2 linked regions of the Homo sapiens genome follow. The protein of the gene in region 1 purifies or fractionates together with the protein of each later gene. This does not show direct contact. Each region holds a gene or a part of one and is shown in the gene's direction. Other genes may lie near its edges.

Region 1 (3,607 bases):
CTGTTGTTTCTTCTTGAAGTATCTTCTGAAAATAAACACCACCAAATTTTATTAGTACATTAGGAGCTTAGCGTTTAATGCAATATTATATATGTGTTAATACCTCTCTTCTGGTATTTTAATGGCAAGGATATTGGATTCCGACTCGACTCATTACATACCATCCTGCAACAGGAAGTCCTGTTACAAGAGGATGTGGAGCTGATTGAGCTACTTGATCCCAGTATCCTGTCTGCAGGGCAATCTCAACAACAGGAAAATGGACACCTTCCAACACTTTGCTCCCTGGCAACCCCTAATATTTGGTACTGTCCAGAAAACACCTATTCTTTGACTGCTTACATACAGAGTATTAGCAGAGGAAACCCATCATTGTGCTCTCCATTGTAAAGGCATAAACATTCCATACATTTAGCAGTACAATTAAAGTAACAATATGGGGGGAAAAAGTGCCTTTCTAAAGTAAATACTATTTAAAGTGAAGCTAGGGAAAAAAATCCAATTTGGTTATTATATACTTCCAACTCATTAAAATTAGTTCTGTGCTCAGCAACCTAGCAAATGGGTATAACAAGTGCCAAAAAGTTACTCTGCCAGGTGCAGTGGCTCATGCCTGTAATCCCAACACTTTGGGAGGCTGAGGTGGTAGGATTGCTTAAGGCCAAGAGTTTGAGACCAGCCTGGGCAACGTAGCAAAATCCCATCTCTACAAAACATGAAAAAATGAGTTCAGGTATGTTGGCATATGTCTGTAGACCTAGCTCCTTGGGAGACTGATATGGGAGGATTGCTTGAGCCCAGCAGTTGCAGAGTGCAGTGAGCCGTGATCACACCACTGCACTCCAGCCTGAGCAACAAAGCGAGACCCTGTCTCTAAGGGGAAAAAAAAAAGAATTTATTTTACCCATACACCTATTCACATGTGTGCATGCAAACCTAACCTTCTTTGTGTTTCTTTATAATTAATAGGTTTTATCGTAACTATATTGTAGAGACACCAAGAATAGGATGGGACATGGAGGTAGGCAGTTGATTCTGGCTGTGTTGGCTGAGAAAAGATCACAGGGAATGTGATTTGATGATTCATTCAGACCATCCTAAAACTTTTCAACCTCTTGAACTATTTGGGTCTAGAGCAGAAGTCCCAAGCAATAATCTGTTAAAAGAAAAAAAAAGAATGTGTAGCAAAAAGCGATTATATATAAAAAATTATTGATGTCTTCTTCCTGTTAAAGTACTTTATTAAATTTGACATAGAAGGGAGGAATGAATCAAGAAGTACACTAAATCACTATTCAAACTGTTCAAGTTATATAGGCAGTTACATTCATTGGCCTCAAGGTTCTGTATTTATGTCTTCCCTGTCACACTGACAAATGCTTCATTCTGCAGTCACTCAGATATGATCATGAAGAAGTAAAGCTTCTTATCCTTCAAAAATACAAGAATTTAAGGAGCTGATAGAAGGAACCATAGGTTTTAAGAATTTACTACTTTACTAACTTTCCTTTACCCACAAATATAATCAAGCAACTATGAGACCTATAAATGATTTTAGAGTTTACTATTAACATACAAAAGTATATGATGAGATTTTGCTTTATGGTATTGCCAGTATTATCTGAAAAGTAAAGGATTCTAAAGGAAATTAGGGCAAATATTTATTTATTTACTTATTTTTTGAGACAGGGTCTCTGTTGCTCAGGCTGGAGTACAGTGGTGTGACCTCAGCTCACTGCAGCCTCAGCCTCCTAGACTCAAGTGATCCTCCTGCCCTAGCCTCCCAAATACCTGGGACTATAGGAGCATGCCACCATACCTGGCTAATTTTTGTATTTTTTTCAGAGACAGGGTTTTGCCATGTTGCCCAGGCTGGTCTTGAATTCCTGAACTCAAGTGATCTGCCTGCCTCAGCCTCCCAAAGTGCTGGGATTACAGGCACGAGCCCCTGCACCTGGCCAGGGCAAATATTTAATAAGAAATTGCATGTGATTTTCTTTGCAATATGATTATTATAACTCTTTCCAAATATTGCTGTTTTTCAGCTATTCTCAGACACATCCCCCTTATACTCCCCTCTTTCTTTTCTTTTCTTTTTTTTTTTTTTTTTTTTTGAGACAAGGTCCTGCTTTGCCACCCAGGCTGGAGTGCAGTGGCATGATCTCGGCTTACTGCAGCCTGCTCAAGTGATCCCTCCGCCTCAGCCTCCGAATAGCAGGGACTACGGATGCATGCAACCACACCCAGCTAATTTTTAAATTTTTTGTAGAGAAGGGGTCCTACTGTGTTGCCCAGTCTGGTCTCGAACTCCTGGGCTCAAGTGGTCCTCCCACCTGTGCCTCTCAAAGTGCTGAGATTACAGGCGTGGGCCACTGTGCCTGGCCCCCTCTTTCTTATATATACACATTTTCACCAAAGCATTCATTGCTTTAAAGATGTATTTTAGTCTGTTAGACTTGCAATTGATATGAATTTTAAAATGTGTACATATTTTTGTTTCAATTAAAGTAGTATAAAAGTACAAACCTTGTCCATATCATGGTCTGTGGTAAGTATGTATATTCCAAATTGATGATGATTATTTAAAATTAGAGGACTTTATTCAAACAATTACTCATCAAGTGTGTATCATTTCTAATTGGAAAAATGTGTACATATTCTTGATCTAGTATGTGTTTCTATGCAAATAAAGTTTGATTTTAGGAAAAGGGATTTATAATATCTCTGAAATAGTATTTTTACTTTTAAATCTATAAAATCGGATTTTAAAATCTCTAATTTGCTTTTTAGGTTAAGGATTCCATATATTTTTTATTTTTTTAAAAGTGGTTTCAGAAGATGCCTATTGTTATATTTATTATCATTTTTATTAATGTCATAAAGAGAAATGTAGCAATTTCTTTGGGGTCACAGAAGAGGGGTTGGCTAAAATTAGAAGTAACTATTTCAAGCTTTTGGCAAAATCTTCACAGAAGACTTGGTGTCAGAGGAAGGTTTGAACGCATAGGATTTTGGTATTAAATATAAGATGACACCAGGCAAAAAGGAAAGAGAAGGAAGAGATGTTCTGGTTTACAATGCTTGGAGTTGAGGGCTGGGATGCTGATCTGACTCAAGACATGTTCTGGGCCAACTTCTGAAGGATTTTGTAGACTGAGCTAATGAAGTTTGATTTTATCCTGCAGGCGATGGGTGGTATTTCTAGCTCCAGATTCTGTATATGTAGGAAATGTAGAGGCCTTTTGTTGGTTCTGCCCAGCATTCAGTCAGCACCTACAGAGAATTTGAGTTTCTTTTGTGAAATCAGCTTTACCTGATTCCAGAAGATACCTGTTTTCTTACTTAAATTTATCAGCTCAGATGTTAATACCTAAGCACTATTGTCTAGTTGCGAGGTATTTTAAAAATCTTTCACATCACCTTCTTAAATGTCATATATTTTTAAGTTATGCTTTACAAAGAAGCTAGCATTTTATTTATTTAGTAAACCTAAATTTAAATTTTGTTTTTACTGATTAAAGTAATTCATCTTTCTTTCTCTAATCTGATGCATATCATTTTCTTCCTTTCTTGTTCCCAGGGATCTCTCAATGCTATTTGCCTTCAT
Region 2 (3,607 bases), on another chromosome or scaffold:
GGAAGCGTCTGGGCCTTCTTTGCTTGCTGTTGCCATTGCTGTCTCTACCAGAGGGCAGGCAACACAGCCAAGGGTAGAAGGGCACAAAGGATGGCGGAGGCAGTCCATCTATATTGCACAGATGCGGTCCATATGGATCAGCCTCCCAGAATGCAGAGCTGGCGGGGAGAGGGTGGAGAGAGGATCTGGAGGGACAGTGGAAGATATCCAGCACAGGCCATGAATAGCCTTGGCCCTGGGCCCAGGGGCACCTGACAAATATCATTTCCTGTGTGCCAGGACTTGAAAATGTTGGGAAGTGCTGTTTAGCCTTAGAACACTGATGCATTTACTGATAAGAGCTCATAAGAGAGATGGCCTTTCTCATGGGGCCATAGAACACTACCCCATACACATACACACACACACACACTCAACCACCTCTTGATTAATTAGCAAGGGACATCCTTGGATGTGGCTGTGGCTGTTCATGTGCTCTCGTGGGTATAGAGAATACCACTCAACTATATTTGAGCAGATGCCGTAGCCAGAAAAACGTCAGCCTTCTTCATTCTGTGACCACAATGAGTCACAGGGAGGTGTAGCTAGAAAACTCAAGACTCAATGCAAGTGGAGAAGATCCTCATTTTGTTCTATGAGGCCCCAGCAAGTAGAGACCAAGAAGGCCAGAACACCTTTGAGCACAGAGCAAGTTGGAAAGGTGGCAGGTGGAAAGCTTCCATGTATCAACACCTGTGACCTGGTGGGGCCTGGGTAAGGTGAAGCTGGTCTACCTTAGGTGGGAGCTTGGTGAGAACAGGGACTGGCAGGGTGGGCAGGTGCTCATGGGGAGGCCAGGGCAGAGCTGTGTGGAACTCGGCACTTTGGCCAAGGCTTTTAATGAAGGTGCCCTTGATGAAGATGAAAAAAAAAAACACATATCCTATAGAACAGAGGTCAGCAAACTCTTTCTGTAAAGGACAAGATAGTAAATATTTTAGGCTTCAGTGCCATGTGTTATATGCAGCAATGGCTCACCTCTGCCATGGTGGCACAAAGGAAGCCACATGCGATATGTAAACAAATAAGCATGGCTGTGTTCTAATAAAATTTTATTTACAAAAACAGGTGACAGGATATATTTGGTCTGTGAGCTACAGTTCACAGCACTACCCAGTATGGTAGCCAATAGCCACATATGGCTAATGAGCATTTGAAATGTGCTCTGAGGGTAAAATACGCACCAGATTTTGAAGAGTTTGTAAAATAAAAAAGTTAGCCATCTCATTAATAATTATATTGAGGATATATTGAAATAATATTTTGATATAGCTAGTTATATAAAATACATTATCAAAATTAATTTCACCTGTTTCTTTTTACTTTTTTAAAAAATATGGCCACTAGGAAATTTGAAGTCACATTTTTGGCTCACATCATATTTCTACTTCACAGTGATGCTCTCTCCAGAAAAAATACAGGGCAAGCCTCTGGCCCTTGAAGGGTCTCAGGTAGGAGATTTACCCTTAAAGAGGCGCAATAATGGAATTCAAATATACATAATAAAGTGTATGATAGGAATAGATTTTTCAATATATTACGTATCTTTTTTAAAAAAAATAAGCTATTACAGGAGGCCAAGACGGGCGGATCACAAGGTCAGGAGATCGAGACCATCTTGGCTAACACAGTGAAACCCTGTCTCTACTAAAAACACAAAAAATTAGCCGGGTGTGGTGGCGGGCACCTGTAGTCCCAGCTACTAGGGAGGCTGAGGCAGGAGAATGGCGTGAACCTGGGAGGCAGAGGTTGCAGTGAGCTGAGATCATGCCACTGTACTCCAGCCTGGGTGACAGAGCCAGACTCCGTCTCAAAAAAAAATAGGAAACAAAAAATAAAATAAGCTAGTTTTTTCTGCATCTGTGCTCCTCAAACTGGGAGTTATAGAGCTCTACTTCCACAAGATATTGGCCAGGCGAGGTGGCTCATGCCTGTAAATCCAACATTTGGGGAGGCTGAAGCAGGAGGATCACTTGAAGCCAGAAGTTCGAGACCAGCCTGGGCAACATAGCAAAATCTGACTCTACAAAAATAAAAATAAAAATAATTAGCCAGGCATGATGGCAAGTGCCTGTAGTTACTCAGGAGGCCAAGGTGGGAGAATCACTTGAGCCCAGGAGTTTCAGGCTGTCATGAATTATGATTGTGCCACTGCACTCCAGCCTGGGTGACAGAGCAAGAATCTGTCTCTCTCTCTCTCTCTCTCTCTCTCTCTGTATATATATATATAAAATACATAATATATATATAAAATATATAATATATATTATCTCTCTGTCTCTCTCTCTCTCTCTCTCTCTCTCTCTCTCTCTCTCTATATATATATATATATATATATATATATATATATATATGTAAAACCATTGCTCAAGAAAGGGATGTCTTTATAGTAAAAAGAAATAGGAGTAATGCAAACTTAAACATTAATTTAGTGTTTCACTGCAGCAGAATTTCTCAATTCTTCTAAACTTGCTCATGCGTACAGAGCTATTGTGAGAGAAAGCAAGAGTAGGCAATGCTTCCCCACCTTACTGGCCTTAGAAGCCATTTTTGCAGAACTCTAATTAGTATGTTTAGCAGGCAATTTGAGGGGCTGGGCACGGTGGCTCACGCTTGTAATCCCAGCACTTTGGGAGGCCGGGGCAGGTGGATCACCTGAGGTCAGGAGTTTGAGAACAGCCCAGCCAACATGGTGAAACCCTGTCTCTACTAAAAATACAAAAAGTTAGCTGGGCATGGTGGTGTGTGCCTGTAGTCCCAGCTATTTGGGAGGCTGAGGCAGGAGAATCACTGGAACCACAGAGGCAGAGGTTGCAGTGAGCCAAGATTGCGCCACTGCGCTCCCCTGGGAGACAGAGTGAGACTCCGTCTCAAAAAAAAAAAAAAGAAAAAAAAAGGCAATTTGAGAAATGCTGGTCTGCATAATGCTACACAATCAGTGTGCTGCATGATTTTCCAAAAGTCCAACTCAACTGGCTATCATTTTGCTCTATCAGTAAAGCCCCAAGAAGCACTGTATCAATAAGGCCACATTTAGTACAACATGGGATAGTGAGGAAACTGTTGACATTTGGAGGCGCAAAGACTTGAGTCAGATTTCTCTTCCTTTCTTTCTTAGATAGCCATTCTTGTAAAAGCACCTACTATGTGCCAGGCAGCGCTTTAGGCTTTGGGCATGCAGTGGTGAATGAAAAGAGGTCCCTTCTTCTTGGGGCTTTACGGCTAGAGCAAAAGAACAAATTATAAAGAAGACAAATAGTTAAAACATAGATAGGGATTAGTTGCAAGGAGAAAATACAGAGCAGAGAAGAGGGCTATGCAGCGGGGCGGGGCAGGGATGATCATGGAAGAGCATCTGGGAAGGCCTCTGGGAGAAGGTAACTTGTGAGTAAAGATCCAAAGGAGGCTCTGAGGCCATGATCAATCCTCGTCTGTGTATAGATAATCCCTTCCTTCTGAAGGGGATTCCTAAAGCCCAAAAGAGCTGATGTATGTGAGGGTCCAGATAGAGGCTAATTGCTTATGAAGGGTTCAGAATTCACTCCTTTGCCTCCCATCACACCTCCTT

Evidence for each region. The genes of interacting proteins can lie anywhere in the genome.
Region 2: the proteins of VEZT (region 1) and LRFN2 purify together in Homo sapiens (affinity purification with mass spectrometry; one large-scale study listed by BioGRID and IntAct). This does not show direct contact.

Annotation. Positions count from the first base shown.
Region 1 is NC_000012.12:95,262,777-95,266,383, forward strand, and holds part of VEZT (vezatin), read left to right. Parts: intron 1-129; coding exon 130-305; intron 306-3,580; coding exon 3,581-3,607. UniProt on the Homo sapiens protein: Plays a pivotal role in the establishment of adherens junctions and their maintenance in adult life.
Region 2 is NC_000006.12:40,433,801-40,437,407, reverse strand, and holds part of LRFN2 (leucine-rich repeat and fibronectin type-III domain-containing protein 2 precursor), read left to right. Parts: intron 1-3,607. UniProt on the Homo sapiens protein: Promotes neurite outgrowth in hippocampal neurons. Enhances the cell surface expression of 2 NMDA receptor subunits GRIN1 and GRIN2A. May play a role in redistributing DLG4 to the cell periphery.